Homo sapiens: one gene and its partners. The protein of the gene in region 1 purifies or fractionates together with the protein of each later gene. This does not show direct contact. Each region holds a gene or a part of one and is shown in the gene's direction. Other genes may lie near its edges. The genes, in order: GDPD5, TEX264, STX16, GOLIM4, MTARC1, LEMD2 and NDUFA12.

Region 1 (4,267 bases):
TGGCACTGAGCAAATCACTTCATCCCTCTGAGCCTATAAAATTAGAATACCTCCTTTAGCAGGTTGTTGCGAGGATTAAATGAGCTACAAAGATGCAGTGCCTGGCCAAATATCCGTTTCCATCCCTATGAAGAAAAGGAAGCTTGAAGTTTGACCAGGAAGTCTGGGGAAATTCTCAGACTTGTCTTCGATTAGAACGCAGGATATGGTTGCAGGGCAGGCTCAGAGACCTGAATTTGCTCAGCTCAGGCTGCTGTGTGGGTCACACTCCCCTAGTCTCATAGCCTCTAGAATCAGTCTGCTTGGGGACACCGGCAAGGGGCTCTGGATTCTTACCCCCTCCCTTGGCTTCCTGCTGGCAGGGCTGTGGTGCCTGGAGCTGGTGTCCATTCCCTCGGGCCCATTGTCTGACCTCCCTAGGCACCAAGGTGCAGTGAATAATTAATACTCCCCTCAGCTGGGGGCAGGCTCAGGGAAATAGCTCTATGTTCAGTGAGCTTCTGAACCCTACCAGAGGAGGTGGGGGCTCCTGTCTGTGCTGTTAGCAGTCTTGGATATGGGGGGGCAGGCAGGATAGGACAGGGAGAAAGTGTCATCTGGCCCCCAACAGGAGAGAGCTGGGGTTGATGATGTCCTGTCTCTTCTGTTGGGGGCCAGATGGTCCCACAGGCAACACTGGGAACCAAGCTAGCTGAGCTAGGATCAAGTGGGCCTCTGATTCCAGAGAGGTGGTGACGGGGAGGAGTAAGGGGGAGGGTACAGGGCAGAAAGGGGTGGAGGGGAGGCCCTTGAGGACTGGAGTAACCAGGAAGGCTTTGTCAGGGAGGTGGCTGTCTGGGCAGGAGCTAGAGGAAACTTGCTGCAAAGACGGGGGGTCCTGACATCCCTCCAAGAAGGAATCCTGGCTGTGCCACCGCCTCACTGAGAGCATGGGAAAGACACATGATCCCATCAGGCCTCCATTTCCCCCTTTGTGAAATGACGGTTGTGATGTCCACTTCTCAAGGCTGTTAAGGATCATCTTGAGGTCCCATGTGTGAAACACACGGCACTTTAGGCACTCAACAAGGGGGTGCCTCATCATGAGTGTGAGCTAGTGGGCTAGTGGCGGGGCAGGTGGGATAGCGTGGTAAGCCGAGAGGTAGGGAGAACTTGGGGCGAGGAGGATGGCTTGGTGGGGTTAGTGAGGGGTGAATGCCCATATAGGAGAGGGCCTTGAATGTTAGACAGAACTCACATTTCAGAAAGCTTAATGGAGCCCCCATTTAGAAGCCTCTGTGGCTCCTTACGGCCTGTAAGATGAAGACCAGGCCCTAGTTATGGCATTCAGGTCCTTGGTCACCTTAGCCTCTGCCCGGCCTTCTGGCTCATTGCTCTGCACTGTCTCCTAAACACACCACATGTGGCCCCATCACAGCCCCTTTGTTTGTGGTTCCTCCCATCAGAACCGCCATCCCTGCCTCTGCTCCACTTACCTCCCCACCTGTCAAGACCTGACTGAGGTCATAAATTCCCTCAGAAACATTCCTGGATTACCCAACCCTCTGGTCATGCCCCCTCTGAATCTTTAACATTCAGCAGTAATAGTAAAAAATAATACCTACTATCCATAACATTTTGCAGTTTGTAAAATGTATCCACACAATACTACAGTGATGATATCAACAACAGCTGATATCTTGAGTACTTACTATGAGCCAGACAATGTGCTAAATGTTTTATAGACACTCTTGTTCACACAAACTCCCTGAGGTAGCTACTGTTATCCCCTAGAAACTGGGGCTCAGAGAGGTACCTGATCTTGCCCGAGGTCACACAGCTCAAAGGTAGGGAGCAGGGAGCCAAGCTGCATCTGTTTGAATTGTAAATCTGTGCTTAGAAGATGTCCTGTCTCCTCACCTCCACCCAAGTACCTTGAAAGCATACTTTGTGTGTAAAAAGCCTGGACAAGGTTTTTTCTCAAGGCTAAGGAAGGGCAGTGTTGGACTGAGCATGGGGCCCAGGAAGGACCTGGGCCCTAGGCCGTGCACAGGCTGGCTGGTTGTCTGTGTGACCTGGGGTGAGTCGGCCCCTCTCTGGGGTCCCGTGTGTCCATGTCTATGGGGAGCAGGGTGGGTTCTGAGCTCCCCTGTAGCTCCAGCTTTCTACATCGTCTTTCGTGACCCTGGAGGGAGGAGGAGGAGACCACAGCACCAGGGCCAGAGGATGTGGTATGACGGGCAGCTGTGATTTTTGGCCTGGCCACTGTCTGGGCCAGCAGGCTGTGTGGGTAGCTGCCTCGCCCAAAGGAGGGTGGTGGCCTGAGCTGCAGGCAGCATGGTCATTAGCTGGCAGAGGAGACCCTGTGATTGGGAACTGGCTGGGCCAGGCCAGGCCAAGTTGGCGGGACTGGAGGCAGGCTGGCCGGGCCACAGCGGGGTCACTGGCAGGGCAGCCAGCTTCTCCTCCCTTTGCCCCCTTTGGGGTGGTGGCAAACACACACTGGGCACCAGAGCTTTGTAGGCCAAGGCTTACCCTTTCTCCTGCTGTGACCATGGGAAAGAGCAGTAAGGAGTTCAACCAGGTCCAAAGATGCTGCCTGCTATAAGCTTCCAGTACTCCTCCCATGCAGGTGGGATCCAAGCCTCCTCTGCTGCTGATTCATGGCCCTCTGCACACTGACTGTGGTCTGTGGATTGGGGTTCTGCTTGGTCTGCTTCCCTTGCTGGCTTGTCAAAACTAGATTCTATGTGCCCCCACCGAATCCTCCCCTCCCTCTGAGTGCCTAGCAGTGTGCCTGGCACAGAGCCACACCCTCCGGGCCAGGGGAGGCAGTGCAAGCTGCCCCATGGACAACTTGCTCAACTTTTGCACCTCTGTTTTTTCCCTGTACATTGGGGCTGATAATAACTGTTATTAAATGAGATGAAGGAAGTGGGGTGCCTGTCCAGGCCTGGCACACAGGTGGGTACTCCATCAGCATGAGTCTTCTTGCCCATCCCCTCGATGGCTTCGTGAACGAGCAACTCAGTAAGAAGCTGATGGAAGAGTCCAGTGAGTGATGGCTGGAGGGAGGGCGTGCCAGATGGCAGGGAGGCCTTCCCTTAGGGGGACTTAGCTGGGGTTTGCAGATTCACAGTTCCCACCACCTTCCCTGTGAACAGTGGTGTGTAAGCAGGTGCTGTTGGCCTGGAAGGGTCCCGAGCTAGGTTCAGGGGAGGGAGCAGGACTGGGATATCTGGGGACTTGGGTTTTCTTCTCAGGCCTACGCAGAAGAAATGACCCAGGTGGGAGAAGCCGTCTGGCGTCCAGCTAGCAGATGCTGGGCAGAGAGTGTGAGTTCTTCCTTAAAGGGAAGCAGCATTTATTTGGTGCTGCTCACACACACATCCAACCGAAATGTAACATGGTTGGAGATTCTGGTCTGTGGGGGAAACAGCATTAGACAAGGAAACACACAGATGCAAAACTTCCAAATTGTGAGAAGCAGGCTCCTGAGGCAGGGGCCGGTCCCATCAGTATCTGTGGCTGGTGGCACAGGGTAGGGCTAAATGACTTGGGCAAGTGATTTAACCTCTTTGGGCTTTAGTTTCCCCATATGTAAAATGGGGATAATTACAGCATCTTCATCATAGAGTTGTGAGGGTGAAATGAATTATACGTGTAAAGCACTCAAAAAAATGCCCAGCACATAATGAGCACTCAGTGCAGGTTAGCTGTTATGATCTGTATCTCCAGCACCTCACAGAGGATCTTAGAGAAAACAGGTGCTCAGGAAAGGCGTTTGGAATGAATCCCAGGCAAAGGGCAGCTGCTCCGTGGAATGAATGAATGAACAGCCTGGTAGGGTTGGGAGGACACAGAAGCAGTGACAACACAGAATGTGACAGGGAAGGCCAGGGGCCTGGGGTTGCCCGGCGCTGGGTGGGGAGGGGAGTCAGGGAAGCCTTCCTGGAGGTGGTGCCCATGTTGCTGACTTTGGACCTCTGTGAGATCAGCACTGAATGAGCTGAGAGAGGAGTAGCTCCTCTCCAAAGGTAGCTGGCAAGGAGGAGAGCTTGGGCAGACCCCAGGACCAGTGGACTCCACAGGCCTCTCACTTCCCACCAACCCACACCATCTCTCCATCTGTGACATTCTGCTTTCAGGGCATGAGGAAGGCGGAAAGGCAGGTGGGGAGGAAGTGTGGGCTGCTGGTCTGACAGGCTCAGCTCTTCCCAGGCTTGTGACCAAATCTCCTGCAGAAAAGGATAAACAGGCCTGCTTTGAGTTCTTTTATCTTCTTGCT
Region 2 (4,267 bases), on another chromosome or scaffold:
GGCAACTTGACCCCTGTTCTGGCTGTCCCTGCCTGCCTCAGGGTGGCTCTGGCATGTCTGTGCCCCTCCATACTCATTGGGGGATGGGGAGCACTGGATTCTGTGTCTAGGCAGAGGGAGGTGGAGTGCCTTTTGGAACTTGGGGCCCAAAAGGTGGTACATCAGCCCACTGGGTAATGTCCTGTGCTAGATCTACTTGTCCTACCTGACCTTCCAGTCCAGGGTCTCCCTCTTCCCCATCAGCTAAAACCTGAGTTTACATGTGAGGAGGTATGGGAACCATACCTGATAGTCTCAGAGGTTGACATAGCTCTAAACTAGCAGGGGAATGAATGGGAGTGGAAGTGGTGTTTAGCTGGCCTTGATCCTTGTTCAGGGTCTATAGTAGCATGTCTGCAAGAGCAGGGGCTGGAGGCCTAAGGACTGGGGGTGCTGGTCTTCTGATATCTGTGGGTCAGTCAGCGTTGTCCAGGGTGGAGAGGAGGTCAGGGCCAGGGGGTCCTGGGATGGAAAGTCTGGTAGGTGAGACCTTGGCTTAGGCACATGGGGTCCCTATCCTGGGGTGGTCCAGGGGTGCCAAGCTTCATGGCTCTGTGAGACCAGTGCCTTCTGGAACAGCTTTTTGGTCTCAGATGTACACATAGGAGAGCAGTGCCAGGCTCCTGGGTTCTTTTACCACCTGCCCTAGGGTGTCGTCCTGGGTCTTCAGACTATTATTGCACTCTGGACTATGGGGCCCTGCTGTTAGGGTGATCTATGTGTGCCTCCCTCAGCAGGGCTTTGGAACTTGGAAGAGGTTGAGAGGCAGAGCCAGCCCCTGGGACAGAATAGGTAATAGACAGTTCTGGGGGTCACCCAGGGACAAGTGAGTCAGGGGCCCTGTAGGGCTCATTCTACCTTTTGCCACTCTCTGACTAGGAGCGGAAGCTGTGTGCCTATCCTCGGCTGGAGATCTACCAGGAAGACCAGATCCATTTCATGTGCCCACTGGCACGGCAGGGAGACTTCTATGTGCCTGAGATGAAGGAGACAGAGTGGAAATGGCGGGGGCTTGTGGAGGCCATTGACACCCAGGTGGATGGCACAGGTACAGAAGGTGGGGTATGAGGATGGGGCCCTCCTGGAGCTCCTCTCTTCTGGACTCCAGGGGCTTGGTTGAGGAGGCTCCTCCCTCTCTGGGTTGGCACTGTGGGTGTCAGGCTATGCTTGGCAGAGGGAGGAAGGAGACCCACCTACCTGAGGACCCACATGTGGAGTTGCCTGTTCCCAGACACATGGATCTACATAGATGTGGATTCACACACATTACCTCCTGGCAACACAGATACAAAGACCCTGCCTGGATTCCCTCCAGATGCAGCAGGAGTACCCTTGGAAACAAAGATCACAGACAGCTCGATGTTCATGGGAGGGGGCTGAGGCTGCTCAGGAAAGGAGTCCCTTGGGTGGGGCTCAGCAGGAAGTAAGATTGGCATAGATCTGGAAGGTAAGGAGGGGAGCAAAGTGTTCTCTTGTCCCTCAGTACGGGCCCCACCCAGAGCCAGCTGCTTTCTCCCTGCCAGGGAACAACCAGGGAGCATGCAGAGGGGAGCCAGGAGATCAGTCACCTGTGCCTTTCTCCAGGGCCAGCCCACACTCCTGCTGGCAGCCTCAAGGCCCCAGGTCCAGGCTGGAAGGCTGCTTGCCTGCCCACCCCTCTGCAATGATCTGTGACCCCGGGCTGTCTCAGGCACAAGGGGGTCTGCTGGGTTACATCCCAGATGGTCCCAGGGGGCCTTATCCTTGGCCAACCTGGTGGAGTTTGTGACTTCTAGGAGTGGTACAGGGCTGTGGGGAGAGGAACTGTCCCTCCTCTCCTCCTTCTTTAGCAGATGCTCTGCCCATCCAGTCTTCAACAGCCAAGGTCACCCTAGGGAGACGTGTCAGCTAGGGCTGGGTAGGAGGGTATTGGGAGCAGTCTCTACTCCCTAGGGGCCTGTGTCCAACACAGTTAACTTCATCTGCCACTTAATTACCTCCATGGGGTACAGCTCCCTTCTGCCTGGTAGTGCCCGGCAGACACTCTTCAGTGCCCCTACTGTGGGCACAGGACATGGCACAAGGTCAGCAGGCCCAGGCAGCCTCCAGGGCAGGAAGACAGAGTGCCTTCACTTTACTGTGACCTCCCTCTGCTGCCTGCCTCCCCCTCCTTGACCCACCCACCCAGCTTCCTTCCCTCCCAAACACTGCCTGTCAGGGTCATTGAAGGACTGCTTGGCACCCACTACAGCTGGCTGTAGTGGCAGCTCCCACATTCCCCAGCTCCTCAGCCTGTTTTCCTCCCCTCCAGCCCGCCCACCCACTCCCTGGTGTTGGGGCCAAGGGGTCTGCCCACCTCTCACAGGGCCTGTCCTGACACCCCAGCGGGACTCGGTGTTTGCCCACCAGGTGCATGCCACTGACACAGCAGTTGGTGGTGGGTGCATGCAGGATGTCTGACTGCCCAAGGCTTGGCCTGTCCCTGCCCGCCTCCCTGCTGTGGCCCTAGCTTAGGCCGGGAGGTGAAAGGGGGTGATTAGCTGCCTTGTGCCTGTTATTACATTGATGTATTATTTAGCTTCAGAGAGGCGATGAATATTTGATCGTCTTGCACTGGCTGTGGGCAGAGCGAGAGGGAGGGATTTGGGTGAAGGGGGTGGGCTTCAAGTCCCCTGCCCCAGTAGTCGTGGGGATTTAGGTAGGGCCCTGCCTTGCCTGGTATCTTCTGCCCAGGGATGCAGGCATGGGACTCTGGGACCTCCTCCTGTGTAGATCTTGGTGGGGGTATAGGGATGCTACTTCCCCGTATTGCATTCCTTTTTTTTTTTTCTTCTGCGGCAAGGTCTGGCTCTATCGCCCAGGCTGGAGTGGTGCAGTGGCAAGATCTCGGCTCACTGTAACCTTTCCCTCCCAGGCTTAAGCTGTCCTCCCACCTCAGCCTCCTGAGTAGCTGTGACAAGAGGCGTGTACCACCATGCTTGGCTAGTTTTTGTATTTTTTATAGAGATGGTGTTTCGCCATATTGCCCAGGCTGGCCTTGAACTTGTTAGCTCAAGTGATCCTGCCTCAGCCTCCCAAAGTGTTGGGATTCTAGGGATGAGCCACCATGCCCAGCTGGATTCCTTTTTTTTGTTTGTTTGTTTTTAAAGACAGTTTTCCTTTTTTGCCCAGGCTGGAGTGAAATGGCATGATCTTGGCTCACTGCAACCTCCACCTCGTGGGTTCAAGCGATTCTCCTGCCTCAGCTTCCTGAGTAGCTGGGATTACAGGTGCCTGCCACCATGCCCGGCTAATTTTTGTATTTTTAGTAGAGATGGGGTTTTGCCATGTTGGCCAGGCTGGTCTGGAACTCCTGACCTCATGTGATCCACCTGCCTCAGCTTCCCAAAGTGCTGGGATTACAGGCGTGAGCCACCGTGCCTGGCCTCCAGCTGAATTCCTTTGCTTGAAGTGTATATATGTCTCCAGGGGCTGTCTTCATTTCAGCAGGCTGTCCTGGCCTGAAGGAGGCACCCCTAGGCTCCTTCCTCTGAACATTCCTAGCCTAGGAGCTGGGTGGTAGGAGGTAGCATGCTGGGAAGCAGGCACATTCCTATACCTGGGGTCCCAAGAGAGCCATTGGGTGGGTGGGCAGACAGAACATACAGTTTAATAGGGCCAGGGAGAAACTGTCTCCCTCCTTTGCTCTTTTCAGGCCTGCGGTCCCTGGGGCACTGATCATTATTTAAGGAGCAGTGAGGGCCTGGCATCCTGTCCCCTGGTCAGAAGAAACTACCCAAAACTTAAAGCTCCCCCAGCTCCCTGACCACCTCATTCACAGGCTTCTGTCCTGGGAGCCACACCTGGGGCCTCAGCAAGAGGAGGGCCCTGGGCCAGCAGCCTGGGCTTCTAGGGCTCACCTCACCTCTGCCAGTAGCGCCCAGAGGGCATATTCTGGGGGCTGAGTGGGTGGTGGGGGTAGGGAGAGACCCCAAATTCCCCCCTCTCCTAATTCTCCCACCCCCAACCTAGGCCCCATTTGAGGCTCAAGGAAAGCCCCAGGCTGAGTCCAGGCGCCAAGCAGACCCCAGCTGCACCTGGCTTGGCTCCAACACCATGGAGACAGTGGCTGGGGAAGCTGGCTAACCCCTCACCTTCTGTGATGTTTGACAGCTGACCCTCTCCCCATCATACAGGAAGGGTAGCAGATCCACTTTCTCCCAGTCTGGATTCCTGCACACAGCGAGCCTGAGCCATGTGTTCCTCCTTG
Region 3 (4,267 bases), on another chromosome or scaffold:
TTCTGTATGCTGAGTGTAGCTGATGGAGGCAGACCATAGCCTGCCTGGCATCAGTGGAGTTCTGTGACTTCATTTGCTTAGATTCAGTATGATGTTGGCCGGATTAAGCAGAAGATGAAAGAATTGGCCAGCCTTCATGACAAGCATTTAAACAGACCCACCCTGGATGACAGCAGCGAAGAGGAACATGCCATTGAGATAACTACCCAAGAGATCACTCAGGTGAGGAGTGCAAGTGAGTCCTGGGGAAACCAGCGAGCCTTCTCATGGCAATCTCAGAAACTAGAGTGTTACTCAGAATCAGTCTCCTGGAGTCATTTCCCAACCTGAAGTTCTCAGAGGGACCTCAAGAGGCCCTGAAGTCCTCCAGCTGTCAGCGTAGGTACCTGTGAGGCCTTGGAGGTATGGGGACTGTTTTTCAATTGTTGGCAGATAACTGCTGTGGACGGATTAAGTAAATATGAAATTTCAAACATTATCGAGTTCAATCATTTGATTTTAAAATGTATAACTAATATCGTATACTAGTGTTAAGAAATTTCAATGCTAAATTATAGTCCTCATAATTGAAAAAACAACTTAGTATCCTAGAAAAAATTTTTTATAAATATTAAATTTGATTAATTTTAAAATAATAGGACTAGTGTTGAAACCTCAGTGTTTACATTTTTTACTGAAGTCTCCTGGGTGCTAATTATCAGAGGAGTGTGGTGCTTTGAGAAAAGCCCTGGGGGGTTGGAATGTTGGAACCCTGGCTCTTAGCAGTTTAACAGTTACACGATTCTCATTTAATCCCTCTGACTCTAGTGTTCTCATCTGTAAAATGGGACTAATAATCATAGTACCATCCTCATAGGATGCTTGTTAGGGATTAAATGAGAGGAATGCAATAATAATATGATATATGATAATACAGGTTGAACATTCCTAATCTGAAATCCAAAATGCTCCAAAATTTGAAACTTTCTTTTGAGTGCCAATATGACACTCAAAGGAATGCTCATTGGAGCATTTTGGATTTCGAATTTTCAGATTGGGGTACTCAACTAGTAGGTATTCTGCAAATATTCCAAAATCTCCCGAAATTTGAAATCCTAAACATTGCCAATCCCAAGCATTTCGGATGAGGGATACTCAGCCTGTCTAACGTGATGATATGTGAGCAGCTGGGCACACAGCAGGCCCTACATAGCAGGAGCTGAAATCTAGTGAAATCTTTCTGTGTATATAAATGAAGCCACAGATTCCTTTTATCTGTTCACCTTTCTCTAAACCAGACTGAGTGAACAGAGCCTCTCACTTCTCACTCTGGCTTGTGATGTGGCAGTGTTAGCAGAGGGGCTTCTCTCCCAGGCTTGCCCTGAGCCTCGGGCTTGTTCTCTTAGCTCTTCCACAGGTGCCAGCGTGCCGTGCAGGCCCTGCCGAGCCGGGCCCGGGCCTGCTCCGAGCAGGAGGGGCGGCTGCTTGGGAACGTGGTGGCCTCGCTGGCGCAGGCCCTGCAGGAACTCTCCACCAGCTTCCGGCACGCACAGTCAGGCTACCTCAAACGTGAGTGCTGCCCGGGCCTAGTGAAGGGATTTTGAGTAAGAAAAGCACTTTATGTTTTCTTTTTTGCCACTATTTTTTCATTTAGTCCAGTACCTTTCATTGTTAGCTTTTGAACATGCTCATACCTTGTACAGTAAAGGGAAGCCTCCTCCCCATGTGAAACCCTGGCTTGGAATGAAGGCACAGCGTGGGGTACCGACCAAGGCTGGGGGAGGGCACCAAGATAGTTCAGCATCTCAGCAAACAAAATTTGTTTTGTGTCAAGCTGCAAGAATTTGAAAATCAACCAAGCACATTTTAAAAACCTGTTGTTTTCTGGATGTTGGGGTTTGGGAGAGCTGCTCTTCAATAGGTAAAAAGCAGTTGTTATTACTGAAAGCCACATATTTGCATAACAACCAAAGTGTTTGAGAGCACCTGAGAAAACCTCCCCAGGGTCCTTGAAACACTTCCTCTGCTGGCACCACAGGTTTCACCCAGCAGACCTTTTCTTCCCAAATAGTGCAAAGCCAGATTTCAGCTCTCTTCTCATTCTAATCACCCTGTAAACTGGGTTTTTTAAAATTGCCCTTGCAATCAATAAAGTCCCCACATACTCCAAAAAACCTAGTTCTCCCTCCCTCTGACAACTGGCATATTTGTATTTTAATTTTATTATTTCCAAAATTTGATTAGGGCCATATGGAATTCATACTAGAGATGCTTCTAGAGAGAAATACTGATTTTTTAAAATGTTTTGTAACAGCAGTTAGATTAAATATTTCTGCTTCACTTAGAGATTCTCAGATGGTTGTGTCATTTTTATCTTGGCATCAAGTGAATTGTGCACATTTACACTGTGACTTTTGTCTTGAGTAATCCCAAATGCCTGCATATTGTTGTATGTTTGTAATCCTTTACTCTCCCTCCACCCCCATTGGAGATAGGCTTCTTTAAAGCGGCTAAGAATATCTCAATTTTGACTGTTGGAGTTTACTCTAGAATTCCCCCTTTTAATGGTAGAACAATACTCAGGATGGTTTACATATTCAAGTAAAATGAATTCCTATCTGTGATAGGCATGAAGAATCGAGAGGAAAGATCCCAGCATTTTTTCGACACATCAGTACCACTAATGGATGATGGAGACGATAACACTCTTTACCATCGGGTACGTGAACGGGCTGCAAAGCTGATTGCTGTGTCTGTGCACCCCATTCTGCATCTTTCACCTCCTAGACCTCGATCTTCTGTGCAGTGTCAGTGGATTGATACAGTTGACTTGTATATTCATCAGGTTGTTTTGCAGCAGGTGGAAGAACAGCCGTACTGTTTCTTCCTTTCCAAAGGCCACAGGGAGACCTTGTAATCTGCTTTCCAGAGCCTTTGGGAAAGTGGTCAACACCCTGCCTTCTTAGGAAGAGCCCAGAGAAACAGAGGGCTATCCCGGGGGTTTTGTTTATCTGCCCTTGTGGAGTTGGCAGACGTGGGCTTCTGTCTTCCCTGCTATGGCCTCAGAGCTTTAGATCCTGCTGGTTTAGGGAATTTGAATCTTTCCTGTTAGGGAAAAATGAGTGCTTACTGTGCTTTGTAGAAATATTTTCAGAATTCATTTTCTTTAAATTATTTTCATTGTCTTTAAATTATATCTAAACAAGTATACCATAGCTTTCCTGAGAGGGAAAACAATCTATCCAACACATTGTGCACTGTCTTGCTAGGGTTTTACAGAGGACCAGTTAGTTCTGGTGGAGCAGAACACACTGATGGTGGAAGAGCGGGAACGAGAGATTCGCCAGATTGTACAGTCCATTTCTGACCTGAATGAAATATTCAGGGACTTAGGGGCGATGATTGTAGAACAGGTACGTGAGCTGGCCTTCCTCGTGAATAGGTTTTCCTGCCATACTATCTGTACCTTCTTTTTCCTGTACTCCTTTCAGGGAAAAAAATTGGAGCCAATTTTCCCAACATGTGTGTGCACCTGTCCTTTATGTGTGTGTGGGTGTGTGTGTGTGTGTGTGTGTGTGTGTGTGTGTGTATATTAATATTAATCAAATATTAAATTTGATTAATTTTAAAATAATAGGACTAGTGTTGAAACCTCAGTGTTTACATTTTTTACTGAAGTCTCCTGGGTGCTAATTATCAGAGGAGTGTGGTGCTTTGAGAAAAGCCCTGGGGGGTTGGAATGTTGGAACCCTGGCTCTTAGCAGTTTAACAGTTACATGATTCTCATTTAATCCCTCTGACTCTAGTGTTCTCATCTGTAAAATGGGACTAATAATCATAGTACCATCCTCATAGGATGCTTGTTAGGGATTAAATGAGAGGAATGCAATAATAATATGATATATGATAATACAGGTTGAACATTCCTAATCTGAAATCCAAAATGCTCCAAAATTTGAAACTTTTTTTTGAGTGCCAATATGACACTCAAAGGATATATATACATAGCAATCCTAATCAGAAAATATGAAGTTCAAAATGCTCCAGAATTCAAAACTTTTTGAGTGTTAACATGATGCCACAGGTGGAAAATCCCTACACAAGACCTCATGTGACAGGTTGCAGTCAAAACTTTGTTTTATGCACAAAACTAGTAAAAATATTGTGGCCGGGCACGGTGGCTCACATCTGTAATCCCAGCACTTTGGGGGGCTGAGGCACATGGATCACCTGAGGTCAGCAGTTCGAGACCAGCGCGGTCAACATGGTGAAACCCCGTCTCTGCTAA
Region 4 (4,267 bases), on another chromosome or scaffold:
CATTGAAAATCTGCCTTAATAGCAGTAGTTGGAAATATCAGCTGCTAAAAAAGCCAAGGGTGATTCAGAGAAAGTTGGGAAATAGGAGTTTTTGGACTTCATGTATAATCACAGTTCACCTGACAAATAGTCGTTAATAAACCAGCTCTGCCTCCTGAGTTTGTCAGGAGAAACAAATGAAGAGAAAACCCAGAGGAGCTAACCCCTCTTGCTCTGCACCAACTCTTTTTCACCCTAGGTGTACCCTTCAGCCAAGCCAATGATCAAATTCCAATCACCCTATGAGGAACAGTTGGAACAGCAGAGACTGGCAGTGCAGCAGGTGGAGGAGGCCCAGCAGCTGCGGGAACACCAGGAAGCTTTGCACCAGCAGAGGCTGCAGGGGCACTTACTACGGCAGCAGGAACAGCAGCAGCAGCAGGTGGCAAGAGAGATGGCCCTGCAGAGGCAGGCTGAGCTTGAGGAGGGCCGGCCGCAGCACCAGGAGCAGCTCCGGTAGCCTTCCCCTTCCTTAATGAACGAAGACAGCCCCTGCTCCAGTTTTCATACGCAAATTAAAAACAGTTTTGTGCATTTGTGATTCATGAAGTTAAGGGGCTCATATTGCTCAAATAGCCAAGGCAGGACAGCTACTTGAAAATTAAATACCAAATATTTAATTTTAAAAATAATATTTTTTTTCTGCTCAAAAGTGGTAGGTTAGGTCTCCAAATAGCCTTGCAGGCTTTGTGCCAACTTTATTTTATTTTATCTTTAAAAGATATTTTATCTTTTTAAGATACCTTTTGAAAGTGTATCTGGAATTTTTATTATACCTAATTGCATACATAAGAGGTTTTTAAAAATTTTTCATGGCTTCTTAAAAATGTTGAGAAACATTACTTATTACTGTCTTTAAAGATAAATGACCTATGTCAAACTGTGCCTCTGAATTTTGTCCCACTGGATTTATCATGTTTGTGTCTCTTGTAGGCAGCAAGCTCATTATGATGCTATGGATAATGATATCGTTCAGGGAGCAGAGGACCAGGGAATCCAAGGAGAGGAAGGAGGTGGTGAGACTTCCTAGATGATGAATGTTTTAATAAATTACTTGATAACATTGTATATTATCAGTGAGCCAATATTATATAACATCAATGAGCTGTATGCATACCTAAGTGCAAAGGAGGTTTGTGAATCATGTCTTTTTCTTAATCCTCTTAAACAGTACATGCTGGTAGTGAAAAATGCTCAAGATAATCTGTTTCCTCTCTATCATTTTCCCTGTAGTTTAAGCTTTTTATATACTAAATATTTATAATATTTCTGACAAATTATTATAGGATTATTATGCTTTGGGAAACATCTGCATTTTCTCCTTACCTTGGAAGTCCTCACATCATTGCCTTAAAATGTTTTCAAATTAAGTCAATAGTAGCTTTCATTTATGATAAGCACTTAATATGTAATTTATCAAATATTGCTTACTGTTATAATAGAACCAGAATGTAACTTACTGTCTCTCTGGCACCACTAACACTTAGATGTGTATCTTTTTCTAAAAAGTCAGAAAGAAAGTGATTACATACAACCTCCCTCAATAGCCCGTTGTGATATCTTACAGCTCTTACAGTCAAGAAATTGTTTTCCTTATGTCCGCCATGTGGCACTTTAAGCTTTTTTGTTCTCATATCAGTAAGACTAGAGAATGGCTTGTCCTCTTCTCTATGTAGTAAACCCCTTTGTGCACTTGAAGGCTGATGGTAAGTTACCCCGTATCATCATTTTCTCTAGGCTTAGTACACTCCATATACTTAAACTTTCCTCTTCTATCTTACTTGTTTTAAAAAGTGATTTGTTCTTCTCTTTTTGTGCTCATACAATTCTCTTTATCTAAATATTTTTTCAAAAAGCAGCAAGTAAATGTCTGAGTATGAATGTGTGCTGTTTCTGGGCTGTGGCGGTCATCATCATTACTGTGATGACATCAGAAAACATGTGATGGGCTATATTTGTTTCTGAGCTCCACAGATGGGGCAGTTCTTCCTTGCATTTCCTGAAACTATCAATTTCTTCTTTTGGAGCCCAGCTACTTCCTCTGATATTATCAAACATTAGTTGATTTCTTCAGCAGTGTCCAATCAACTGGGCTTTCTTTTATTGAGAGAGTTTTGATTGTTGTTGTTTTCTTGCATATGGGGGAAAAATTACAGCTCCTGTGAAAAATATTTATTTTAGAAGAAAAGTGTCTGACCCATATCATCTCTCTAGACACACAGTCTGTGAAGAGAACATAACCTTATTCAGAAAAGCCAGGACATAGGCCTTATGTTGAGTTAACAGAGGTGGAGGTATTGTAGTCTGTAGAAAAGTCCACTGGTGGCTTTTCTTTGAGTTGAAAGGGAAATCCTGTTTGATTCATTTTGGGCTGATTTTAGTTCCTTTGATTTGCTAGCCTATGAAAGAGACAACCAGCACCAAGATGAAGCAGAAGGAGATCCAGGTAATAGACATGAGCCTCGTGAACAAGGACCCCGAGAAGCCGACCCAGAATCTGAGGCAGATGTAAGTATCCTCTCTTCTGCCCCTGACACATGTAAACTCATAAGGTGGGAAAGAGAGTTGAAAACTTGCCTGATGCCAGCCTTCAGCCCCAGATATTTCTGTTATATCCTCAGCCCAGAAGGAAAATGGCTTGCATAATTATATATGGGCAGTGTTTTTAACTGTAAACCATGGTGTACGTGTATGTGATGAGCTGGTTTAAAAGTTGCTCTGGGGGAAAAAAAAAAACAAAACCAGGATTTTTTTTTTCTGATGACTTTTAGATTAATAAAACTAAAACCTAGAAAAGCAAAACTGAGAGACACTGAAATATGTAGTAACTCTGAAAGCTAGGAGGAATAAAAGGCAAGTGTGGAAGTTGGAGATGGGACCAGAGAAAGGAAACTAACCCTTCCTGAGCATGTTGAGCAGTCTGCTAGAGTGTTAGGTATTTGTGTGACTCTCTGTAATCTCTTAGCAGTCTAGTGACCATTTTAATAAATATATGGATAAGGATATGTGGTCTGAGACATGAAGAGTTGTTCAGGTATGCAATGGTACAGAAAATTTATAATATAAGTAGGTAGACATCTAATAACCAGCATTGTTGTTTGTGTTTACCAAAAAAGACTGAGACCTCTAGTTCAGCTGGGTGGGCTAGATCCTTGGCCCTGCCTACAAGTGAAGCAAGCAAATGTTTAGTGAGTCTGTTCCTGCGTGTATGCGTAGATGATTTTTACAGCTTATTTTAGCTGCCCTGTCATCTCTTGCTAATAGATCAACTACCATGTTTATAACAGTCGGTCTGTGCTATGTCACATGAGCCCTGATTAAAAGGAGGACCCATGTCCTTGCTAATCATCAAGAAAGTCATCCTGCTAGCTACTTAAAGCCCTTTTGCTGGAAACAGCTTTTCCACTTAACTTGCACTGAGATGTGGCAGAACACCTTTCCCTGGCATTCCTTGCATCAAGATTTCTGAAAATATGCTCCAGGGAACCTAGTCCTGAAATATTTTCAGGAAAAGGCTAATACTTGAGAGCAGAAACATATGAGAGAGCAAGAGACTATCCAGGAGAGAGCAAGAAAGCAAGTGTACAAAGGCCTGCAAATGTGCATGGGGTGGGAGGAAGGGCATTTCAGTCACTTGTTTGGGAACTGCTGTAGGCTTTGATTTCTTGACTATATGATCCTTTACTTTCCTGTCATCTGTTTGTTTGTTTTGGGGAACATGCTGGGAAACATTGGCCTTTGTACCATTCTTCCTTTTAATTAGAAATGGTTAATCCCACTTGTTCCTCTCTTTCTGTTTTATTTGAACGTAACAACTGTGCCTGCTAATTCATACCTGTTACGTGGTCGGAGTTGAGCTAGTCAATTTTATGAACGTTTGCAAAAGATATTTGGTACTTTTTTCTGAAAAGAATATGTTACATTTTTCCTGTAATTCCATACAAATTTTTGATAGTGCACTAAAGAAAATCCATATGACAAGAGATTGTGGAGTAATTAGAGTTTAGTGTGAAGGTGGTAATTTGGTAGTCTCTACGTTCCCAAGAATAGTGTCATTTGCACTGGAGTAACATTCATGGCCAGGGATGTGCAGATAATAGATCAGCTGAGATGGCAGTGAACTCTCAAACATGTTCAAGACTCCTAAGTGAATTGAAGTAGAATCTTGTCTGGAGAATACTGATAGAGACCAAATCCTACTCTGTGGCTTTACTGTCTCTTAGAAGCA
Region 5 (4,267 bases), on another chromosome or scaffold:
GTAGGAAAGCCCTGGCAGGCCGGCCCACCGAGAACCCCTTTTCCACTCCCATAGCTCTTCCCGCTTCTACTCCTAGACAGCGGAGTGGACCGCCACCTGTGAGCCGGTGACCACACCTGCACTTTCACAAAGCAGCTCCCTCACCCCGACCTGTGCAGTTTAGGGAGGCTGTGCCGAGAGGGGCAGCCGCTCTTTACGGTCCTCTGCTCCTCATTACCTGGTGGGGGAGTGAGTGTGTCTGTGCTTGGTTGGCAGGAAGGGATAGGTGAAAAATGTAAGTGGCTAGAAATTGGTGTAGGTGACTAAATTGTGAGACCCCTCGGTTCTTCTCAGGCCTGTGGGTGTACTCAGGAGGATGTCGACGACCAGGGTTACATCCTGGGTGGGAAGAGTCCACTAGACTCTGAAGTCAGCCAGGCCTGGGCTCTGGCCCCAGCTGGATCCTTTAGATCTGTGATCTCAGGCAAGTCTGTTACTCCCCCTGAGACTTAACTGTAAAATGAAGAAAAGGCAAATTCCCACATAAGCAGGTTGTAAGGATTAAAAAAGAGAACATGTGTAAAGTTCCTTATAAACTATCCATGTGTGATGCGCAGAACTCCAACTCTCAATTTCTCCCCAAGATAATGAGAGTCTGGACTCTTAGACTGCAGAGCTTGGCAGCAACGGAAACACCCATACAAGCAGCTGATGTGTCCCCTGTTCCTGAAGAGGTCACCCTCTGACAGATAGATCTCAGAATGTCATGAATGTTGCATGCTGAAAGAGGAGAGCCAGGCTAGGAGAGATGCCTGGTTTGTCAGGTCCAAGGGCATTGCAGAAACCTGATTACAGAGAGAGGAAATACTCTTGGCAAGGCAGGGAAGCCTGCATCAGCAGCTTGTTATTTTCATTCATCCATTCATTTGTTCATTCATTGTTCAACCAACATTATTTTTGAGTGGTTACAGTGTATGTGTGAGGCACTGTTCCAGGCCATGAGAATGCAACAGAGAACAAAGTGGACACAGTGCTGCCTACAGGATGTTTACAGTCTGGGGAAGGAGCTGCAGGTCTCCAGAAGGTGGTTCTAGATTTGACTCTCTGTTTTCTCCTTAACAATTTCTGATTTGAAGAACAACATTAGAACCAAGTTGTTGCAGTCACTTTTTCACTTTTTTTTAAAGCAAGGCAGAATAAAATGAATGATTTATCTAAAATGTTTTAAATATAAAAATGATGTAAAATTAGGGTTAGATTAAATAAAAAACTGAAGGTTAACTTCTTCCCAGTGGGGAAGGTGGGGGAATCTTGCCATGTGAGTCCCACACATCTGCTCATGTACCCTCTCCCTGCGTCTTCTTTAATTTTCTGCTGGACAAAAATATTCATATTTATACTGCCTCTGACAGACGGTTTTACTCATGAGCATACTAATCCAGCCAGCAAACAATGGTGGGTCACAGGTGATGTAGGAGGCCCGGCATTGGGCGTGAGCAGTACAAGGGCATTAATCACAGTTCCTGTTCTCCAGGGACTCTGCCTTGTAGAACAGACAAACTTGTGCCCTGACATTACAGGACAAGATGTGTGAGTATTGGAGGGGCAAAGAGAATTGAGGAGGGGGAATTACTCGTAGCTGGGGGAACCTGGGCTTCCTTCCTGGGAGATGTGGTGTTTGATTTGGGCCTTGAGGCAGGTACAATTCTAAAGCATGGGGACCTGGAGGAGGAGCATCCCACAGGAATCACAGAGGACTTACCGAGTCAGTACAATGCAAAGCAAGGTGAAATCCAGCAGAGAGCTGCAGAGGCACAGGTAAGGAGCAGATGGCAACAGGTCTGAAAAAGCAGGCTGGGGCCAGGTAGAGCCCTACATACCAGGCTGAATAGTTGGAATGTTATTCTTTAGGCACTGGAGAGCCACGGAAGGTTTGTGAGCCTAGGAATGATAAGACCAGAACACAATTAAAACAGTGATATAGTGCAGTGTCAACAATGAATTGAAAACAGGTAGAGAATGAGGAAAAGAGGTTGGTTAAGAAGTTATTATGATAGTCTGAGCATGCTGGAAGCAAGATCGTGACAGTCGGAATGAGGAAAAGCAAGCCAAGTCAAATGATGTTGTACAGGAAGAACCTTGGAACTCGGCAGCTGCGGACAGGCTGTGGGAAGAGAGGACAGTGGTGTAAAGGATGGGCTCCCAGCCCAAGTGACGGCTAGGATGGTGGTTCAGGTGACAGACATGGAGGAGACAGGAGGAAAGATGCCTAGGGCAAAGGAAGATGATAAAGTATGTCTAGACACATTGAGTATCTAATTTTTTTTTTTTTTGAGACGGAGTCTTGCTCCATTGCCCAGGCTGGAGCGCAGTGGCACAATCTCCGCTCACTGCAAGCTCCGCCTCCCAAGTTGATGCCATTCTCCCACCTCAGCCTCCCGAGTAGCTGGGACTACAGGCACCTGCCACCACTCCTGGCTAATTTTTTGTATTTTTAGTAGAGATGAGGTTTCACCGTGTTAGTCAGGATGGTCTTGATCTCCATCCTGGTTGTGATCTGCCAGCCTCGGCCTCCCAAAGTGCTGGGATTACAGGCATGAGCCACCACACCTGGCCAAGTATCTAACGTCTTAATGCCGAAAGGGGGAACATGAAGGTAGAGAAAAGATGTGGGGATGTGGCCATTGCTTATGCTTCTGTCGTTGTTTGCTGGGCAGGCTGTTCACTGCCCCACTCCAGGAGGCGCTGTTCTGTTGAGCTTTGACGGGATGGTGCCCTCTCGAGCTGTGCGTGCGGAGGCCCTGTGTGGGATGGAAGCCACGTGCTGGTTGAGCTCTTGCATCCGCTTGGCTGTGACTCATCATGATCTTTTCCTATTGCAGTTATCGCCAGTGTGACCCTTCAGAACGAAAGTTATATGGAAAATCACCACTCTTTGGGCAGTATTTTGTGCTGGAAAACCCAGGGACCATCAAAGTGGGAGACCCTGTGTACCTGCTGGGCCAGTAATGGGAACCGTATGTCCTGGAATATTAGATGCCTTTTAAAAATGTTCTCAAAAATGACAACACTTGAAGCATGGTGTTTCAGAACTGAGACCTCTACATTTTCTTTAAATTTGTGATTTTCACATTTTTCGTCTTTTGGACTTCTGGTGTCTCAATGCTTCAATGTCCCAGTGCAAAAAGTAAAGAAATATAGTCTCAATAACTTAGTAGGACTTCAGTAAGTCACTTAAATGACAAGACAGGATTCTGAAAACTCCCCGTTTAACTGATTATGGAATAGTTCTTTCTCCTGCTTCTCCGTTTATCTACCAAGAGCGCAGACTTGCATCCTGTCACTACCACTCGTTAGAGAAAGAGAAGAAGAGAAAGAGGAAGAGTGGGTGGGCTGGAAGAATATCCTAGAATGTGTTATTGCCCCTGTTCATGAGGTACGCAATGAAAATTAAATTGCACCCCAAATATGGCTGGAATGCCACTTCCCTTTTCTTCTCAAGCCCCGGGCTAGCTTTTGAAATGGCATAAAGACTGAGGTGACCTTCAGGAAGCACTGCAGATATTAATTTTCCATAGATCTGGATCTGGCCCTGCTGCTTCTCAGACAGCATTGGATTTCCTAAAGGTGCTCAGGAGGATGGTTGTGTAGTCATGGAGGACCCCTGGATCCTTGCCATTCCCCTCAGCTAATGACGGAGTGCTCCTTCTCCAGTTCCGGGTGAAAAAGTTCTGAATTCTGTGGAGGAGAAGAAAAGTGATTCAGTGATTTCAGATAGACTACTGAAAACCTTTAAAGGGGGAAAAGGAAAGCATATGTCAGTTGTTTAAAACCCAATATCTATTTTTTAACTGATTGTATAACTCTAAGATCTGATGAAGTATATTTTTTATTGCCATTTTGTCCTTTGATTATATTGGGAAGTTGACTAAACTTGAAAAATGTTTTTAAAACTGTGAATAAATGGAAGCTACTTTGACTAGTTTCAGATCTTACTAACTTCTTGGCACAAAGTTAGACTGTGAAAGCTGACTGAGGCTGGGCACAGGGGCTCATGCCTGTAATTCCAGCACTTTGGGAGGCCAAGGTGGGAGAATGGCTTGAGCCCAGGAGTTTGAGACCAGCCCAGAAAATATAATGGGATCCTGTCGCTACAAAATGTTTTTAAAATGCACTCGGTGTGGTGGTGTGTGCCTGCAGTCCTGGCTATGGCTACTCGGGAGGATGAGGTAGAAGGATTGGTTGAGCCCAGGAGCGGGAGATTGAGGCTGCAGTGAGTTATGATTGC
Region 6 (3,500 bases), on another chromosome or scaffold:
AGGCACAATGCCTTTTAGCTGGAGCAGTCAGGAGAGCGTCACAGGAGGTAGCATCTGTGCCAGGCCCTGAAGCCCAGGTAAGACTGGTTACATGTATGTGGGGAAGGACAAGGCAAAGCGGCAGGAAATTACATCTCGAGTGGGAAGCAGCACCTTCATGGAGGAAGGGGAAGATGAGAGAATGAAGTTTGGAAGTGTTGGTTGGGCCCTACCATAGATGGCCTTGGATGCCAGGCCACCAGAGCTTGATCTGGCAGGCAGTGAGGGCCAGAGAGGCTTTGAGCAAGGGAGTATCATGCTGAGAGCCAGGTGCCAGGAAGGTGAATGCGGCAGCAGCTTGAGTAGCACAGTTAAGCAGAATCATTTTCAAGTGTTATTGACAAAACAACTGGATTGGGAAAGGGAGAGGAGGAACCGAATCGAGAGGCCATCTACGTGGTCCAGGCAGGCCTGGCAAGGGCAGGAAGAGTCCTAGTGGGAAAAGGAGGATGCTAGAAGCCACCTGTGTCTCAGGGGACCCCTGGGGTCAAGATCAACTTTGAAGTAGGAGGATCTGGCTGTGTTAGGGGAAGGCGACAGGCTTCAGTTCAGTTTCAAAGTTTTAAAATATGACCTTCAGCTGCTCCCTTCCCCAGCATGCAGAAACACACTCACTGGCCACCCGAAGTCCCCCAGGCTGTGCTGGGTCAGGGCAGTCAGGCCACGCACACGTGTTAAATAGTGTATGCGTGCGTGGCCCTGCACCCTCCCTGCTCTCGGGGAGTCAGGCAAACCACAGCACAGGAGCGAGGACCAAGGGCTATGGCAGGTCACCAAATCTGGGGCCATTTCATCAAACAAAAGGCCCCCAGGGGCTGAGGGCTTCCCAGGGGAGATGGCCCCTGGGCTGGACCGGGGAGGTTGGGCAGGACTAAGTGGGAGGCTGCCAGCTCCATCCTATGGGAGCAGGCCTCCAAAGCCACTCGGGGGAGCTGCCCCTTGGCGTGCTGTGCTGAGGCCCCACTGCCCAGCACACAGACATCCTCTTCCTCCAAGGGGCCCCTCAAGACAATAGACCTGGCATTCCAGGTCGCCTGCCTGTGTCATGAGTCAGAATCCCCGTGGTGCCCATGGCCTCCCTGCCTTTCTTTTTTCTCAGGCTGTGTTTATTTATAGTGCCATTCCGGTACCTTCCGAAGCTATCTGTCTGATTCTTTTAGGGATCAATTGCAAAGAGACCTTGCTATTGGGCAGCTTTTTAGTCATTTAATGCAAAATGCCACACTGCTTTGCAGGTCAGGTTTTAATGATCTGGAATCGATCCAAGCTAAGTGGCTTTTGATCTTGCTGCAGAGTGAAGATGCCCCACAGAAGCCAGGAGCCGCTGGGCAACATGCTCCTTATTAGAGCTGATGGCTTGATTCTTGCTGCATTTTTTAGTCTGTTTCAGAGTGATTTTTCCTTTGTGTTTGAGCATGTGTGGTTTTTTTTCTCCTAGGTAATTTTGAGTGTGGAAATCCAGAGAATCTAAAAAGCAAATGCATTCCTGTTATGGAAGCCCAAGAATATATAGCCGTAAGTAGGCTTCAGTGCTTATACATTCCTGGGAGGGCCTGGTGCTTTCCTATTGGTCTTTCAAGCCCTGTTGGGGTTTTTGTTTTTTGTTTGCTTTGTGGCTTTTGTACTAGGCTACCTTAAGTTAAGGTTTGGTTTATGGCTTTTTGTGCTAGACTACCTTCAGTTAAGGCAGCCATGGTAGTGACTGCCCCAGAGCCAGGCCGCCATGTGCAGTGGGGCGGCTCACTCCTGACTGCTGCACTGTAGGTGTGCCTGTTACCTGCTTCTCCCTTGGTTCACTTTGCTCGTCTTGCCTTCGGCTTTCAGGAGAAACATGCTGTCCCTTCTCCCCCGTATGATTACCATTCAGACTGCCCAGGGGCCGTCTGATTTCCTGTGTGGCCTCAGGATGGTAGATTATAGAACTATGGAGCTGGTATTCCAGGTCGCCTGCCTGTCCAGTAACTTAGGGGTCATCTGGTTCCATTTGCATTTCACAGATGAAGAAACTGAGGCCTGGAGAGGGTCAGGGACTTGCCTGAGGCCAGACCACTTGCACCGGCCACTGGGCTCACCCACCCCCAGCCACAACGCTGTTATTCGCTTTACCCTAAGATGAGCTGCCAGCTCTCTGGCCTGATGCTTCCATCCTCGAGAGAATCATATTCTTTTGGCCGCCTCAGACCCGCACTGTTTTCCTGCTTGTGCTTCCGCATCACCTCCTCTGGTTATAGCCTCTTCCTTGGCTTTCATCAACCCCCGATTTCCTTCCTGCCACTTTGCTGTGCTTTTAGCAGAACAGGGTTTTGGGGCTGTGGAGGACACGGGAGAGGGCTTCCTTAATCCAGCAGCAGAATAATGTTCCAGCTGCTCCGCCCAGACGCCGAACTAACCTTCTCCCGCGCCCTCCCACAGAATGTGACCAGCAGCTCCTCCGCCAAGTTTGAAGCCGCACTGACCTGGATACTGAGCAGTAACAAGGACGTGGGCATCTGGTGAGTGTGGGCAGGGTGGCGACGCAGCATGGGTGCCTGCAACCACTGTCCTCGCTCGTCAGCTAACACCCGTGCTCCAACAGAGCTGTCTCAGGTCTGAAGCTGGAGGCTGGGTCTCCCAGCAGAATCATGTGGGTTAGGATGGAAGTGGGGCAACAAAAGCAAGAAGCATTTGGAATGCAGTGTAAGGAGCAGCTTCAAGATGAGACACAAAATCCAGGTGTTAGGATGTTAGCCTGGTGTTCCAGCTAAATCCTGTCTCAGGTAACTCAGTCTGTGCCTTTCTCATTCATCAACAACACCACATGGTTTGTTGGGGAAGGCATTTTTCTGCACTTCCCCTCCTCGGGAGCTAGTTTTTATTTGTAGATGAAATTATTCTTTCTGTATGTTGGTTTTACTTACTATGGAAATCGCATAAGGAAATACTGGATTTTATTCTGACCAGGCAGTTTCTGCCTCATTTTTATCACTGGTGAGCACTGTTAGAAAAGGTAGCAAACCCTTTCATGAGGCTGAAAGGCTGTATCTGGCGGCTCAGCCCAGGGGGAGGGGCGTGTCAGCCAACAGCCAGGCAGCCTTGAGAGACCTGTCCCCTGCTGGCAGAGCAGCATCACTTCCCCACTTCCCACTCTCGGTGTTTGTGGGGGTCTCTGTTCAGGTTATAGCTCTTGATATTAAAACGTCTCTAGAGTTTTGTTCTTTTCCTCTCTAATCCACCCAAATTACTAATTCCATCAGCACTGCATCCAGCAGAAGCCCCTCGGGCAGCTCCACCTCAAGCTGGATAACTGGATGCATGGCACGATTAAAATTTGTTGGCTTAAAAAAAAAAAAAAGCTGCCCTGAGTAGCTGAGCAATTTTCCTGTGTTAGAAAAGGCGGAGGAGAATACGGATTTTATCCTCAGCAGCAGCGCTCACTGAAGCTGCTAACACAGAAGAATGATGACACTCACCTTTTCATGTTG
Region 7 (4,267 bases), on another chromosome or scaffold:
TAATAATAAAAAAATACTCTCTTGATTGAGATGAAAAGTATCAAAGAGGAAAAAGCAATTAGTCTTCATCCAGGGGAACAATGTATAACGTGAAAAAATAATTGCCTGGCATTTATTGAGTGATTACCATGTGCTAGGTGCTGTGCTAAACAAAAACATACGTTATCTACCTTAATCTTCAACATCTCCTTGAGATAAGCACTTCTGTGCTCCTCCGCCCCCATTTCACAGATGAAGAAGGTAAGTCATTGAATAGTTAGGAATATTTCTCAGGAATGTGGTTGCTTTGGATGCATGTTGGTCTATAAGAAGTAAACATCTTATGTACTCTATGTGTGTGCGTGTGTGTGCGTGTGTGTGTGTATGTGTGAGTGTGATGAGGTCTCACTATTTTACCTGGGCTGGTCTTGAACTCCTGAGCTCAAGCAATCCTCCCGCCTTAGCCTCCTGAGGAGCTGGAATTACAGGCACATACTGTCACACCTAGTTATGATATTTTTAATACATAAATCACAGAATTTTAGACCTAGAATAGATTTTAAGAGATTGTCTAAAAACTATTGTTTTATAGATGAAGAAACTGAGGCCCAAGGAAGTATCTTTACCAAAGAGACTTAATCATGTAATTAATGGCAGAACCTGGGGTAATTATTCTTTCTACTTCTCACTGTATTGTTACAAACTATAATATTACATTCTTTCCTTTCTTTAATTTTTTTTTTTTTTTTGAGACAGAGTTTTGCTCTTGTTGCCCAGGCTGGAGTGCCATGGCACGATCTTGGCTCGCTGCAACCTCCACCTCCCAGGTTCAAGTGATTCTCCTGCCTCAGCCTCCTGAGTAGCTGGGATTACAGGCATGCGCCATCATGCCCAGCTAATTTTTTGTATTTTTAGTAGAGATGGGGTTTCTCTATGTTGGTCAGGCTGGTCTTGAACTCCTGACCTCGTGATCCACCCGCCTCAGCCTCCCAAAGTGCTGGGATTACAGGTGTGAGCCACTGCAGCCAGCCTCCTTTCTTCTGTTCTCCCTTGCATTGGAAATATTCTTATTTTTGCTAATTAAAAAAAAATTAGGGCCTGGCATGGTGGCTCATGCCTGTAATCCCAATGCTTTGGGAGGCTAAGGTGGGAGGATCAGTTGAGGCCAGCAGTTCAAGACCAGCCTGGGCAACATAGAGACCCCCATCTCGTGTGTGTGTGTGTGTGTGTGTGTGTGTGTGTGTACCTATATATGTATGTATTTATATATATTTGGTGTATGAAAGCTCCCTCCCCTTATAATTTTGCAACTCTTTCAATAGTTTAGTCTTTATGTATATTTAAAATTCTTTTCTTTTATTTCGAGACAGGGTCTCTCTGTTGCCCCACCTGAAATGCAGTGGTGTGATCTCGGCTCACTGCAACCTCTGCCTCCCGTGCTCAAGTGATCCTCTCACCTCAGCCTTGAGAGTAGCTGGGACTACAGGCATGTGCCACCATGCCCAGCTAATTTTTGTATTTTTTGTAGGGACAAGGTTTCACTATGTTGCCCAGGATGGTCTCGAACTCCTGAGCTCAAGTGATCCCCCTGCCTCAGCCTTCCAGAGTCCTGGGATTAAGAAGTGAGCCACCGTGCCCAGCCAGTTGTGTTTATTAAAAAAAAAAAATGCACAGCATTTTTAAAAATAGCAACACAACATTCCAGTGTATGGAAGAACCATTATTTCTTCAATCCTGTTACTATCGATAGACACATAGATTGCTTTTGACTTTTTGCTATTAGGAATGATGCTACTGTAAACCTGCTTGTAACTACATTCATGTGTTTAAATAAATTTCTGGCCTGATCTCTACTAAAAATACAAAAATTAGCCAGGCATGGTGGCACATGCCTATGGTCCCAGCTACTCGGGAGGCTGAGGCAGGAGAATCGCTTGAACCCAGGAAGGGGAGGTTGCAGGCAGTGAGCCGAGGCCGCGCCATTGCACTCCAGCCTAGGCGACAGAGCGAGACTCCGTCTCCAATAAATAAATAAATAAATAAATAAAGTTGAATTTCTGAGTCTGAGAATAGGCATTTAACATTTCAAGAAATACAGAGAGAGAGACAGACAGAGAGAGAGAGAGATTGTTAGGGCCCACTTCCATCATTATAGCCTAACTGTATTGTCAGGGCTTGACTTATGAAACCTTTCCCAAGGTCTCCTCCATCTGCCTGCACATTCCCCTGCCTCACTGGATTATAGTTTACTTTTAGTTAGCTATTCTTAAGATTTATTTCTCTAAATGAAGCAGTAAATGTTGATTGAAATCTGTATTTTTAAAAAGAGATGAGGTCATGTTTAAGTACCGTTAGTCAATTTTTGTTGATTATATGTTTACCTGGGAAAACCCTGTAAATGAAATGCAGATTACCTTTTACTTATTGGTTTAAAGTCCATCATAGGAATGAATGGATTCAGTGTTCCCTATTGGCAGGTAAGAGCAGTAAGGAAGGGGTAGAAGGAATTAATACTTATTATGTGCTTATATGGCTGATGCTGAACTAGGTGAATGTATGTGATGTTTAATTTTCACAGCAACTCTAAGATGTAGGTATAGTCATCCACTTTTACTAGATAAAGAAACTGAGGCTCATAAAATTTGCCTAATAACCACTGATAATAAGTGACAAAGCCCAAGTCTTTGCTCAGTTTAAGGACCCAATTGTGTAAATAAGTAGTGGTTAGGCCCCTCAACTAGTGCACAGAAATTTCCTAAATGAGGAGTGCAGCCATATTATTTTGATGACATGAGCTGTCCTATGTACCTAACCATCATTTCTAATGTTTGCTTATTGTATATAATTCACAAATTTCCAAAAGGATCTAGGGTGGTTTTAAAAAAATACTTATGTGGAGACATAGAATTCAAGTATGATTGCTACAAATGTGTTTTTTCCCCAGTCTCAAGAGGAACACCTTCTTTTCTGAATACCCTGTACATCTGGGAACACACTTTCCTATCCTGTCTGCTACTCCCTCTGTGGGGAGCTGGCAGGGAAGCAAGGATTCTCCCCTGTGGGAAAGGCCTGAGCCCCACCCACAGCAGTGAATCATCTCAGTCCTTGCTGCGGGTTGCTGCTTAAAGTTTGCCACACACCTCCTGGAGCTTACCTTCACGAATTCACCCAGGGTGTTATTCCTCCAATAGCTCTCTTATATAAGATCACAAAAAGTCTTTTCTTAATAAAAAGGTTGTCTTCTTTGATATTATGCATCTATGCTTTAAAAAAAAAAGTTTTTCTTTTTAAATGTTCATCTTCCCACCCAGGCCGTCACCGATGGGTTGTATATACTACTGAAATGAATGGCAAAAACACATTCTGGGATGTGGATGGAAGCATGGTGCCTCCTGAATGGTAAGCTAAGACAACATTTTATTTGTCTTTCTTTTTTTTCTTTTTTGAGACAGGGTCTCACTCTGTCACCCAGGCTGGAGTGCAGTGACATGATCATGACTCATGTCAGCTTTGACCTCCCAGGCTCAAGTGATCCTCCCACATCAGCCTCCCTAGTAGCTGGGACTACAGGCCCATGCCATCTCACCCGGATAATTTTTGTTTTGTTTTTAAATTTGTTTGTTTGTTTCTTTTTTGAGACAGAGTCTCATTCTGTCGCCCAGGCTGGAGTGCAGTGGTACAAACTTGGCTCACTGCAACCTCCACCTCCTAGGTTCAAGCGATTCTCCTGTCTTAGCCTCCCGAGTAGCTGGGACTACAGGTGTGAGCCACCACGCCTGGCTAATTTTGTATTTTTAGTACAGACAGGTTTTCACTGTGTTGGCCAGGCTGGTCTCGAACTCCTGACCTCAGGTGATCCATCCACCTCGGCCTCCCAAAGTGCTGGGATTACAGGCATGAGCCACCGTGCCTGGCTTTTTTTTTTTTTTTTTTTTTTTTTTTTTGAGACAGAGTCTCACTCTGTTGCCCAAGCTAGAGTGCAGTGGCATGATCTTGGCTCACTGCAACCTCTGACTGCCAGGTTCAAGCAGTTCTCCTGCCTCAGCCTCCCGAGTAGCTGGGACTACAGGCTCATGCTACCACGCCTGGCTAATTTTTGTATTGTTAGTAGAGATGGGGTTTCACCGTTTTGGCCAGGCTGGTCTTGAACTCCTGACCTCAGGTGATCCACCCGCCTCGGCCTCTCAAAGTGCTGGGATTACAGGCATGAGCCACTGCACTCGGCCTAATTTTTGTATTTTTTATAGAAATGCGATTTCGCCATGTTGCCCAGGCTGGCCTCAAACTC

What was found.
Region 2: the proteins of GDPD5 (region 1) and TEX264 purify together in Homo sapiens (co-immunoprecipitation; 3 studies listed by BioGRID and IntAct, with this or other methods). This does not show direct contact.
Region 3: the proteins of GDPD5 (region 1) and STX16 purify together in Homo sapiens (co-immunoprecipitation; 2 studies listed by BioGRID and IntAct, with this or other methods). This does not show direct contact.
Region 4: the proteins of GDPD5 (region 1) and GOLIM4 purify together in Homo sapiens (affinity purification with mass spectrometry; 2 studies listed by BioGRID and IntAct, with this or other methods). This does not show direct contact.
Region 5: the proteins of GDPD5 (region 1) and MTARC1 purify together in Homo sapiens (affinity purification with mass spectrometry; 2 studies listed by BioGRID and IntAct, with this or other methods). This does not show direct contact.
Region 6: the proteins of GDPD5 (region 1) and LEMD2 purify together in Homo sapiens (co-immunoprecipitation; 3 studies listed by BioGRID and IntAct, with this or other methods). This does not show direct contact.
Region 7: the proteins of GDPD5 (region 1) and NDUFA12 purify together in Homo sapiens (co-immunoprecipitation; 3 studies listed by BioGRID and IntAct, with this or other methods). This does not show direct contact.

Annotation. Positions count from the first base shown.
Region 1 is NC_000011.10:75,518,965-75,523,231, reverse strand, and holds part of GDPD5 (glycerophosphodiester phosphodiesterase domain-containing protein 5), read left to right. Parts: intron 1-1,374; exon of another isoform or gene 1,375-4,217; intron 4,218-4,267. UniProt on the Homo sapiens protein: Glycerophosphodiester phosphodiesterase that promotes neurite formation and drives spinal motor neuron differentiation.
Region 2 is NC_000003.12:51,698,488-51,702,754, forward strand, and holds part of TEX264 (testis-expressed protein 264), read left to right. Parts: intron 1-918; coding exon 919-1,087; intron 1,088-4,267. UniProt on the Homo sapiens protein: Major reticulophagy (also called ER-phagy) receptor that acts independently of other candidate reticulophagy receptors to remodel subdomains of the endoplasmic reticulum into autophagosomes upon nutrient stress, which then fuse with lysosomes for endoplasmic reticulum turnover.
Region 3 is NC_000020.11:58,667,906-58,672,172, forward strand, and holds part of STX16 (syntaxin-16), read left to right. Parts: intron 1-81; coding exon 82-222; intron 223-1,385; coding exon 1,386-1,548; intron 1,549-2,606; coding exon 2,607-2,698; intron 2,699-3,248; coding exon 3,249-3,392; intron 3,393-4,267. UniProt on the Homo sapiens protein: SNARE involved in vesicular transport from the late endosomes to the trans-Golgi network.
Region 4 is NC_000003.12:168,026,008-168,030,274, reverse strand, and holds part of GOLIM4 (Golgi integral membrane protein 4), read left to right. Parts: intron 1-238; coding exon 239-495; intron 496-972; coding exon 973-1,052; coding exon of another isoform or gene 1,053-1,055; intron 1,056-2,437; coding exon 2,438-2,547; intron 2,548-4,267. UniProt on the Homo sapiens protein: Plays a role in endosome to Golgi protein trafficking; mediates protein transport along the late endosome-bypass pathway from the early endosome to the Golgi.
Region 5 is NC_000001.11:220,810,431-220,814,697, forward strand, and holds part of MTARC1 (mitochondrial amidoxime-reducing component 1 precursor), read left to right. Parts: intron 1-2,861; coding exon 2,862-2,988; 3' UTR 2,989-4,267. UniProt on the Homo sapiens protein: Catalyzes the reduction of N-oxygenated molecules, acting as a counterpart of cytochrome P450 and flavin-containing monooxygenases in metabolic cycles.
Region 6 is NC_000006.12:33,779,131-33,782,630, reverse strand, and holds part of LEMD2 (LEM domain-containing protein 2), read left to right. Parts: intron 1-1,477; coding exon 1,478-1,554; intron 1,555-2,451; coding exon 2,452-2,531; intron 2,532-3,500. UniProt on the Homo sapiens protein: Nuclear lamina-associated inner nuclear membrane protein that is involved in nuclear structure organization, maintenance of nuclear envelope (NE) integrity and NE reformation after mitosis.
Region 7 is NC_000012.12:94,993,281-94,997,547, reverse strand, and holds part of NDUFA12 (NADH dehydrogenase [ubiquinone] 1 alpha subcomplex subunit 12), read left to right. Parts: intron 1-3,290; coding exon 3,291-3,378; intron 3,379-4,267. UniProt on the Homo sapiens protein: Accessory subunit of the mitochondrial membrane respiratory chain NADH dehydrogenase (Complex I), that is believed not to be involved in catalysis. Complex I functions in the transfer of electrons from NADH to the respiratory chain.